Homo sapiens: one gene and its partners. The protein of the gene in region 1 purifies or fractionates together with the protein of each later gene. This does not show direct contact. Each region holds a gene or a part of one and is shown in the gene's direction. Other genes may lie near its edges.

Evidence for each region.
Region 2: the proteins of RFTN1 (region 1) and AZGP1 purify together in Homo sapiens (co-immunoprecipitation; one large-scale study listed by IntAct). This does not show direct contact.
Region 3: the proteins of RFTN1 (region 1) and GUSB purify together in Homo sapiens (co-immunoprecipitation; one large-scale study listed by IntAct). This does not show direct contact.

Annotation. Positions count from the first base shown.
Region 1 is NC_000003.12:16,510,806-16,515,126, reverse strand, and holds the start of RFTN1 (raftlin), read left to right. Parts: upstream 1-1,427; 5' UTR 1,428-1,685; exon of another isoform or gene 1,686-2,056; intron 2,057-2,210; exon of another isoform or gene 2,211-2,343; intron 2,344-4,321. UniProt on the Homo sapiens protein: Involved in protein trafficking via association with clathrin and AP2 complex.
Region 2 is NC_000007.14:99,969,590-99,973,141, reverse strand, and holds part of AZGP1 (zinc-alpha-2-glycoprotein precursor), read left to right. Parts: intron 1-1,135; coding exon 1,136-1,396; intron 1,397-3,552. UniProt on the Homo sapiens protein: Stimulates lipid degradation in adipocytes and causes the extensive fat losses associated with some advanced cancers. May bind polyunsaturated fatty acids.
Region 3 is NC_000007.14:65,960,049-65,962,714, reverse strand, and holds the end of GUSB (beta-glucuronidase isoform 1 precursor), read left to right. Parts: intron 1-1,651; coding exon 1,652-1,818; 3' UTR 1,819-2,031; downstream 2,032-2,666. UniProt on the Homo sapiens protein: Plays an important role in the degradation of dermatan and keratan sulfates.

The DNA of each region.
Region 1 (4,321 bases):
CTCTGGTGATGCCCCTGAGCAAATGTCCCTGCGCACTACTGTCTGAACCTGGACTTACGTGGTCACCTGGTCTTATTTTCTTTCATGTGGCAAGCTCAAGTGTAGGGGGGAAATGGGGGACACTGGGGATAGTGGTGGTGAGTGTGACACCAGGAAAAGGTGGGGTGGAAAGGGAAAGGAGAAAAACAAATAAAAACAAAACAGTGGTGAGGGAGGGGGAGCAAAACAGAACTAGAAAGGCTATGGAAAGAGAAAATAAGGAAGAAAATCTCTGAGAAGCTGTGGTAACAGGAAGAGTCCCTGAAAACAAAATAGTGCTTCCTTACTTGCTGGAGGAGTGTTATTAGTGCCAGAAGGACCTCATCGAAACACTGCTGGGCCCCTAAACCAGCCCTCCACCCTGTGTGCTCCAGTGCTTAACTTTGCCCACACAGGGTCTTCTTTGCCCAATTAGAAAATGGAGATAATTAATTAAATTATCTCACCCTTCTTGTTCTAGCCCCCTTAAAATAATGATAATAGCTAAGTTATAGAGTGGTTGCTAAACACTTTACATATAATAACCCACGAAGAAGTGCCATGTGACAAATAGGCGCAGAGCAGTTAAGTCACTTACCCAAAGTCACACAGCCAGTAAGTACTAAAGCCAGGAATCCAACCCTGATTATTTGACTTTAAAGTTCCCCCTCTTAACCCCTACACTGTAATTCTGCTTGGTTTAGTTTTACGAAGAAAATATTTTCTAATGGCTCCTTGCCTCACATCTTCACTTTACTAATGCAGCCTGGTTTACTAGTGCTTCACTCTTTATATAATTTTCTCCCTGGGTGCCTCAAGTTGCCACGCAAGGTGATTCTCCAGATCTTCTCAAACCTCTGGACATCTTAAGTAGGTAGACCAAGGGATGGCAACGGAGACAGTGGCATTACCCTTCCCTGAAGCACTAACTCGCAAGAGAGAATTTCAGCAGCACCTGAGATGTTTAGGGATGCTCCCACCTGTGGAATGGGGTCGAGAAATGGTCCTCTCTCAAGTCGGCCCCAACCCCACCCCCAGCCATCAGCACCTTGATGGCAGTCGCCCTTTCAGCATCCTGGCTCAAATCTTGAAGGATCCTTGTCTCCCAGGCGCTCTTCCTGACAGCACACAACCTTGATTAGGAGGGGCTGGGAGGGAGGATCGATGAGCCCCTGACCCCTGGGTTCTGAGGCTGCCAGGGTCGCTTGCAGCTCGGCCGCGTGGAGGTGACCGGGCGGAACTCCGAGGGGGCGCGGGGAGAGCTGGGCGGGCCCACCGCTCCAGCGGCTGCTGTCAGGGGCCGCGAGGCTTTCCCTGAAGATGCAGCGTAGCATATTTTGCACATGAGTTCAGAGGAAGAGGAAGTGTAGCCGGCGGACGCGCGGCGGCGGCGGCGGGGGCGCGTCGGGGCTGGAGCCGGAGCGCGCCGGGCGCTGGGCGCAGCGAGCGAGAGCGCGGCGGCCGCGGGCTCCGGCGAGGGACAGACGCACCGATCGCCGGAGGGACAGACACACGACCACGCGGCGCCACCGCCCACGCCTCCACCCACCGGCGCCCAAGTCCTCCCCGCGCCGCCTCCTCTGTATGGCACAAACTTTCCTCCCGGGACGGAACACGCTGCCTCAGGGAGCCCGCGACCGCGCCTTCTCCTCCGCCGGTCCCATACGGTAGGCGGCGGGGGGGGCGCGACAGGGCTTGGGGTGTCGACCGGCACAGGCCCCTCCGTTTGGCCCCATGGACCGGGTCTCTGGCGGGTAGTGGGAACCGCGCGTGGCGCCTCCCTGCAGGTTGCTCTTTGCCGGGGCTCCGGAGCTGCCAGAGCAGCACCCCCTGGCCCGCGTCGGATGGGGACCTGGGCTGATCCTTGGGACGCCTGGATCTTGGGCCAACTTTTTTTTGCGGGGAACGGGTGTAGGGGAGTCATTCCTGGAGCGATGTAGGGAGAGGCACTTCGGAGCAGCCTGTTGGGGGTCGTAGGCTCTGCAGGCTCAGAAGCGCCTAGGAAGGACGCAGAGGTGGGGGAGCTTGGAGGCTACAGGTGGGTCCAGGACACACTGCCGCTGGGGTCCTCGGAAAAGAACAGGAGGGAGCTGGTCGCGGAGTCCAGGTTTCCGGGGTGCGCGCGGCCTGGGTGGGGCAGGGTGGAGGCGGTGCCTGACTGCCCCTCTGCGTGTGCCCTGGGAGGTGGGTTTGCTCTGGGGACAGAGGTGCTGGACGTGTAGGAGCAGACATGCCGCGCGCTCCGAGGAAGCGCCGGAACCACCAGAAGCACAGGGACGCGGGTGCCGAGAGTCCCCAGCACTGAAAACGGGGATCTCCTCTTCTGTAAGGGATTTTCTTCCCTTGTCTTAACCCACTTCTCTAGACTCAAGGGACGCCAGGATGGATATGGGTCTGGGCGAGGAGGAGGTGGTTGTGTATTTCGGGAAGCCCCGTTGTCAGGCACGCGCACCCCAGTCCTAGGCCAGGGCTGGTGCCCTTCACCTCCGGTGTCGCTGCCTTTGGCAGCAAGAACCGCGTGGAGGCCAAGGTTGTAGAACCAGGCACGCTCCCTGCTGTCTGTCTGTGACTCTGTGCTTGCCCTCAGCTGCCCTGTGTGGTTATGGGTGATCCCTAGGGACGCTGGGTGGTGTCAGTGAGTTTCTTCGGGGGCTTAAAACAAACAAACAAGAAGTACTTTTTTAAAAAAAAAGTCTGGCTCAATCTCTGTCAGTGGTCACCCCAGTTTCCAGCAACTCATGTGCTGGAACCCTTGTAGTCGGTACAGCTGTTTCAGGAGCTGGGCGCTCAACTAGACTAGGCATCTTCCAACCCCTGCCATCGTGTGTCATCTCAGGATAAGTTAAGGCCTTGCCAGGAAGGAAGCCGGGTGTAATGTGAGCGACCTCTGGGCCTGTGGGTAGGGCCTCTCTGCTGCCGGGATTCCTAATTTGTATCTCTGAACAGCTGAATCCCAACGAAGTTCAAGTGACCCCAGATGTCACCAAACCCCAGAGAGGGGTTACGAAGCAAGCTGTTTGGGACTCTTTGGTGCGTGTGTGCTAACCTCAGTGAAATCACTCTAACCTCAGACTGAGCTCTGCATCCTCTTTTGCCTTCAGTGGGGTTTCTGGCCCGCCTGAGTGATTCAAAGCCCCAGAGCTGGCACGTCATCCTCTGGCTGCATTTGTATATCAAGTCACTGGGTTGGTTTTTCTTTGTTTGCTTTTTGGCTGTATGGACATGGGGCAAATGGAAGTGGAGTGTTGTGCAGTTAGCTAGTAGATTTGGTACAGGAATTGAAAGATAATAAATTGGGAATACAAGTCAGTGAGTTCTTTTTCTCCCTCTTGAGCAGGAATTTTTGGCTTACATTCAAATAATTGCTTTGTCTGTAGGGAAACAAGCAGAAAATCTTTGGCATGAGTGATGTGAGTTCCTGTAAAGCTACTTATGTTCTTCCAGTCTTCTCTTTTCAGCAGAATTGAAACTATGTGGTCCCATGGCTTGGTGGGGCATGGTGCTTTGCCAAATTTCTAACTTGGTGGACTAAGGAGAGGACACTGTGACTCTATCCCCATCCCATTTTTTAAGATATAGAAAAGTTGCAAGAACAGTGACCCCCTAAATATACACACCTAGAGTCTAATTCACATTTTGCCATCTTTGCTTAACTACACACCTCCCCCAACCATCCAGCCATCCCTGTGTCCATCCATAAGTCCAGCTGATGGTTTTATGCACTTTAAAGTAAATTACAGATGTTGGTACAGGTCATTCCTAAACATTTTAGTACACATTTTATTATTTTGACTTCAATATGTGCTTATGGTTTCCTTAAGATAAAATTTATATACATATAGTGAAATGTGCAAAGATGGAAAGTACCATTTGCATAATGTTTTGACAGATGCATGCACCTGTGTAACCCTAGTCCTTATCAAGACAGAGAATATTACTGTCACCCCAGCAGGTGCCTTCATCCTCATTCTCAGTCATTCTCTGCCCTCACCCTCTCAGTGGCAACCACTGCCCTGTATCTCATCATAGGTGAGTTTGGCTTGTTCTTGAACTTCATGTAAATGGAATTCTGCAATATTGTGTAAAGCTCACCATATTTTTGAGATTCATCCATGTCGTATCCATGATTTGGTCTTTTTTTATTGCTGACTTATGTTCCGGAGTATGTCTTACTCCACAGTTTGTTTGTATATTCTGTTAATGGATACATGGATTATTTTAGTTTCTTTCTTCTAGTTTCTTTCTTTCTTTCTTTGGTTATTGTGAACAAAGCTGCCGTGAACATTTGTGTACAAGTCTCTGT
Region 2 (3,552 bases), on another chromosome or scaffold:
TAGAAGTGTTAATTTTTTTTTTTTTGAGATGGAGCCTTGCTTTGTCACCTAGGCTGAAGTGCAGTGGCATGATCTCAGCTCACTGCAAGCTCCGCCTCCCGGGTTCATGCCATTCTCCTGCCTCAGCCTCCTGAGTAGCTGGGACTACAGGCACCCGCCACCATGCTTGGCTAATTTTTTGAATTCTTAGTAGAGACGGGGTTTCACCATGTTAGCCAGGATGGTCTCGATCTCCTGACCTCGTGATCCACCCGCCTCGGCCCCCTAAAGTGCTGGGATTACAGGCGTGAGCCACTGAGCCCGGACGAAATGTTAATTTGTTTTTTTTGAGACGGAGTCTCACTCTGTCATCCAAGCTGGAGTGCAGTGGCATGATCTTGGCTTGTTGCAACCTCTGCCTCTCTGGTTCAAGTGATTTTCCTGCCTCAGCCTCCAGCATGACTGGGATTACAGGCCCGCACCACCATGCCCAGCTAATTTTTGTATTTTTTAATAGAGATGGGGTTTCACCATGTTGGCCAGGCTGGTCTTCAACTCCTGATCTCAAGTAATCTGCCTGCCTTGGCCTCCCAAAGTCCTGGGATTACAGGCATGAGCCACGGAGCCCAGCCTAGAAATGTTAATTTCTAACGCATGTCAGATTCCATGCACACTGGGCAAGGTTCCATTCCTCCATGGGGTGACTCAGGGATCCAGGCCAATTGCATATTGAGACTCTTTCATATTATCCTGTGGCCTTCAAAGTCGTCACCTCTAGGGATGAGAAACAAAAGGGACAAGCCAGCTGGTAGGGTCTTGGACAAGAAGAAAGACATCACTTCTGCTCACATTCTCTTTTGACAAAACTCAGTCACATGGTCCCAATATATCTTCGAGGTGGCTGAGTAATGTTATCTTCCTATGTGTCAAGCAGAGGAAATAATGTAGTGAAGACACAGGATGGTCTCTGAAATATCATCTCAGGCATGAAAGTAGAGCATATTCACTTGAGTGAGCCTCCAGTGGTGTGAAGTTGATGGCAGGAGAAAGAGCTGGGGAAGAAAAGGCCAGTGGCAGGTCTCCCCTCCTAGCCCTATGCAGCCCCACAGTGGGACCCTTGCATGGACCTCAACCATCAGAATCTTTTCTTTTGCAGGTCGTTACTCTCTGACCTATATCTACACTGGGCTGTCCAAGCATGTTGAAGACGTCCCCGCGTTTCAGGCCCTTGGCTCACTCAATGACCTCCAGTTCTTTAGATACAACAGTAAAGACAGGAAGTCTCAGCCCATGGGACTCTGGAGACAGGTGGAAGGAATGGAGGATTGGAAGCAGGACAGCCAACTTCAGAAGGCCAGGGAGGACATCTTTATGGAGACCCTGAAAGACATCGTGGAGTATTACAACGACAGTAACGGTCAGTGAATAACAGACCACAGGGGTGGAAGGTCTAACCCAAGAGGCAGCCCCCCCAGTGTGAGTGGCAAGGGATCAGCAGGATGGAAATAGTCCCAATCCCAGGGGAAGAACAGGAGACACAGCAGAAACACAGACATGTCCACATCCCACCCACCCCACAGCACAGGTGCTCCCCGCTTCCCCATCAATTGCCCCATCCTCATCCCAGGCCTCAGGTCACACAGGAAGTGATGGCAGAGTCACTTCCTATCCAGGCACCTATGACCTCTCACCTCCACACCCCACCCATCGGAGGCTGATACCCCCGTGAGAAGGCATCAGACTCACCCCTGTCCAGGGAGGTTGCCTGGAGAGTGAGCCACTCTCAAAGTCACTCAGACCTGGGCTCACCTGGTGGTTCTGCCAGTCCTAGCTGTTGACAGTGAAACGTTCCCAAAATATCTGGTTGAAATCTGCAAACATTGGAGCACTGAGACCTACCTCCAAACAAGTCTGTAATATTTAACTATGTCTGTTCTATGAAGGATGTCACAGTCTGTCCTGATCTCCCTTGCAGCTCCATCACCTAGCACAGGGTACAGCCAATATTGGCTCAATTGAAATTTGTGGAATCAACAGAGAAAAGCACCCAGCACACACCGTAGCCCATGCTGGGGGCTCAGGAAGTGCTGGATTCAAAACTGTGGGCTGTTAGAGTTCCTTGGAGCCCTAAAGTTCCTCCTTACCATACGATGCAGACCCAGGAAGGGCCACCTGCGCTATGGTCAGAGGAGCTGGTGGCAGAGCCCGTGCAGAGATGGTCCCTGTGCCCCCGGCCCAGTGCTCTTTCTCCTAAACCACACTGCCAGCCCCAAGGCAGCCAACCTCAGGTCTGGTGAACTGCTGGTGTTAAATTATCATAGAGTGGGTGTCAAAAGATGGGCTACTAAGTACAAAAATGCCCAAGGTGCTACATGGGATCTGAAGATTTTCAAAAGGAGGCAAGAAAGAGATAGGCAGATGTTTCAAGGATGTGGGGTGGGGGAGGTCTTGGTAAGGAAAATGGCCCAGGCTGTGTGTCAGCAATAGGAGAGGAGGGGGCACAGGTGATCAGAAAAGACACTGGGGGAAGCATTGATGGACAGGAATAGAAATGGCAAAGTGGATAATTAAGAGGAAGGAGGATGAGGAGATGAACACAGGGTATTAGAAAATAATAGAAGGCAGGGCTTGGTGGCTCACTCTTGTAATCCCAGCACTTTGGGAGGCTGAGGCAGGCAGATCACCTAAGGTCAGGAGTTCGAGACCAGCCCGGCCAACATGGTGAAACCCTGTCTCTACTAATAATACAAAAATAGCCTGGCATGGTGGCACACGTCTGTGGTCCCAGCTACTCAGGAGGCTGAGGCAGGAGAATTGCTTGAACCCAGGAGGCAGAGGTTACAGTGAGCCAAAATCCTACCATTGCACTACAGCCTGGGTGACAAGAGTGAAACGTTGTCTAAAAACAAAAAACAAAAAACAAAAAAAGGAAATAATAGTAGCTGACATTTACTGAGCACTTACTTTGTGCCAGGCCCATCTATGAGCATATATAATGCTCAGAATAGCCCCCTAAAACAGTGCTCTTGGCATTGCCATTTCAGAGGTGAGGAAATAGAGGCACAGGGAGTTGAGTGGCTCCAGTTCAGGCAACACACCAGGTGGGGGTGGGGGGCTGGGGAGAGACCTGGGACGTGAGCCCAGACAGCTTGAGAGCTTTCAGAGTCTATGCCAACAGCACCAACCAGTGCTGGGTAAACACCTGCTTTTATCATCAGAACAAAGAGGCTGTGTCCCCTGCCCTATGAGGTCCATTTCTGAGAGTTGTGGCTAATGGGCAAGAAGGTTGGGGCTTTAGAGATTTGGGATAAAGATATCAAACACCAGAAAGGTAGAAAGAAGTGATCAGATTAGGGTTACTTAGGTGATGATATGAACTCTTCCTAGAACTGAGAGAAAAAGAGAGCCTTCCTTTACTCATATGAAATCACAAATAATTTCTATCCAATTTGGAAGTACACTTTGGTGTAGTTGTGACAGCTTCCTCAGGACTCAGCATAAATTCAAACAAATAATTGTCCTTAGAAGAGATGCTATAGAAGAGATAGAAATATATTCATATTCTGTAGCTTT
Region 3 (2,666 bases), on another chromosome or scaffold:
TTTTAGTAGAGACGGGGTTTCTCCATGTTGGTCAGGCTGGGCTTGAACTACCGACCTCAGGTGATCCGCACATCTGGGCCTCCCAAAGTGCTGGGATTACAGGCATGAGCCACCATGGCCAGCTGAAACTCGGTCTTAAAAAGAAAAAAGAAATGAGCTGCATCACGTTGGGCAAGTCACCTAAGCTTTTCATAAGCCTGTCCAGTGGGGATAATGCCACCTCCTTGTTGGTGTCGTAAGGGCTGCATTTGATGAAGTACTTGGCGATGCCTGTGTTCACTTATGGAAGAAACAGTCTTGAACCTTTTGGTGGGGAAAGCCCCCTTTCCATTTAACATTTCCATTTAGTGGTGGTCTTACTGGGGACAGAGAATGTCCTGAGAGCACAGCCCTGACAGGTCGTTGCCAGCTGTGCTCCTCCACCAGGCTCAGCTCAGGCCTAATGACCACCAGTGGTGGGTGCTGCCAAGCTGGACGTCAGCCCCGGCGGACTTTGAACTCCATGAGTAGGTCCCACGCAGGGACCTGTGGCTGGTCAGGACCCTGGCTCCCACTAGGCGCTATCTCTTCAGAAAGGCCCAAGGCTTTTCAAGGGTAACTGTCCCAGATACCCCTAGCCCTCTGCCTACCCAGTTACCAGACAGCTGGGTACCCAGCATGTAAACCTTAGTTTGCAAATAAAAGATAAACTTTTAGTGCTTTTTTTTTTTTTGGAGATGGAGTCTCACTCTGTCGCCCAGGCTGGAGTGCAGTGGCACAATCTCAGCTCACTGCAACCTCTGCGTCCTGGGTTCAAGCGATTCTCCTGCCCCAGCCTCCTGAGTAGCTGGGACCACAGGCACCCACCACCATGCCTGTATAATTTTTGTATTTTTAGTAGAGATGAGGTTTCACCATATTGTCCAGGCTGGTCTTAATCTCCTGACCTTGTGATCCGCCTGCTTTGTCCTCCCAGAGTGCTGGGATTACAGGCATGAGCCAATGTGCCCAGCCAGTTTTTGTATTTTTAATAGAGGCGGGTTTCCTCATGTTGGCCAGGCTGATCTTGAACTCCTGACCTCAGGTGATCCACCTGCCTCAGCCTCCCAAAGCACTGGGATTACAGGCGTTGGCCACCACACCTGGCCACTGTTTTGGGTTTTTTTCCCCTAACAGACTAGAAAACTAGAAATTAACACACCAGGGAACCTGGGTGTTTGGGCAGAGCAGTGGTATTTAAATATTTCAACCCATAAATTGTCACTTCAGAGCAAGCATCCTGAAACTGTAAGAGGACATTTGGCTGAGCATGGTGGCTTGTGCTTATAATCCCAGCACTTTAGGGAGGCTAAGGAGGGCAGATTGCTTGAGCCCAGTAGTTTGAGACCAGCCTGGACAACATAATGAGACCTTGTCTTTACTAAAAAATAAAAATAAAAGATTACCGGGCATGGTGGTGCTGGAGAGGCTGAGGCAGGAGGATTGCCTGAGCCCAGGAGGTTGAGGCTGCAGTGAGCTATGATTGTGTCACCGCATTCCAGCCTGGGCAACAGGGAGAAAAAAGAAAAAAAAAGACATTTCTATTTAGTGCCTACCTTAGCTCCAGACTGGTTCTAACTTGACCCATCAGAAGACATCTGAATCGCTTTGTGTCTTTTTTTTTTTTTTGTAGCACCGACGAGAGTGCTGGGGAATAAAAAGGGGATCTTCACTCGGCAGAGACAACCAAAAAGTGCAGCGTTCCTTTTGCGAGAGAGATACTGGAAGATTGCCAATGAAACCAGGTATCCCCACTCAGTAGCCAAGTCACAATGTTTGGAAAACAGCCTGTTTACTTGAGCAAGACTGATACCACCTGCGTGTCCCTTCCTCCCCGAGTCAGGGCGACTTCCACAGCAGCAGAACAAGTGCCTCCTGGACTGTTCACGGCAGACCAGAACGTTTCTGGCCTGGGTTTTGTGGTCATCTATTCTAGCAGGGAACACTAAAGGTGGAAATAAAAGATTTTCTATTATGGAAATAAAGAGTTGGCATGAAAGTGGCTACTGAAAAGCATCTGAAATCATTTCTGTGCGTCGTGCTGTTTTCAGAGCTTTAACTGTGTGTGGACTTTTGAGAAACTGCTGCTCCAACACCCCCACCACGTTCAGAGCAGCTGGTTCCCGAGGGCGTCTGCAGGAATAGCCCCATGGTCCTAGGGCCACCGTGTTTGTGTAGCAAACCAGGCCAGCCTCGACAGGGAGTGAGTAGAAGACTTTCACAGCTGCTGTTCGACTCCTCAGATGAGCTAAAGTCCCACATGTACCAACAAATTCATAGAAACGCTGTCATTGTTGCAGCACTTAACAGGGTCTGTGTGCCAGTTTCTACATAGTTAAGCTGGCAGTGTCTGAATTGGAAGGTTAGAGGTAACTGGTTCTCCCAGAACATTGTTTTGACCTCAGCCATAGGGTCTTGACAGAAATGGACAGATGAGTGTAAAAGCCTATTGGCTTTATCATAACGGATGCCACTGAATGTGACAGGACCTCCTTAAACAACTTTGCCTACAAATCAGCATTCCATGCCTTTACACCCCAAAATGACGCTACCTGCCCCCTCCCAGAGCACAGTCTTTCCTTAAGGAATCTGTCCTCCCTCTCTTCCTGGGCTCCAGTAAGGCAAGGATGGTGCATCAATTCTGATTT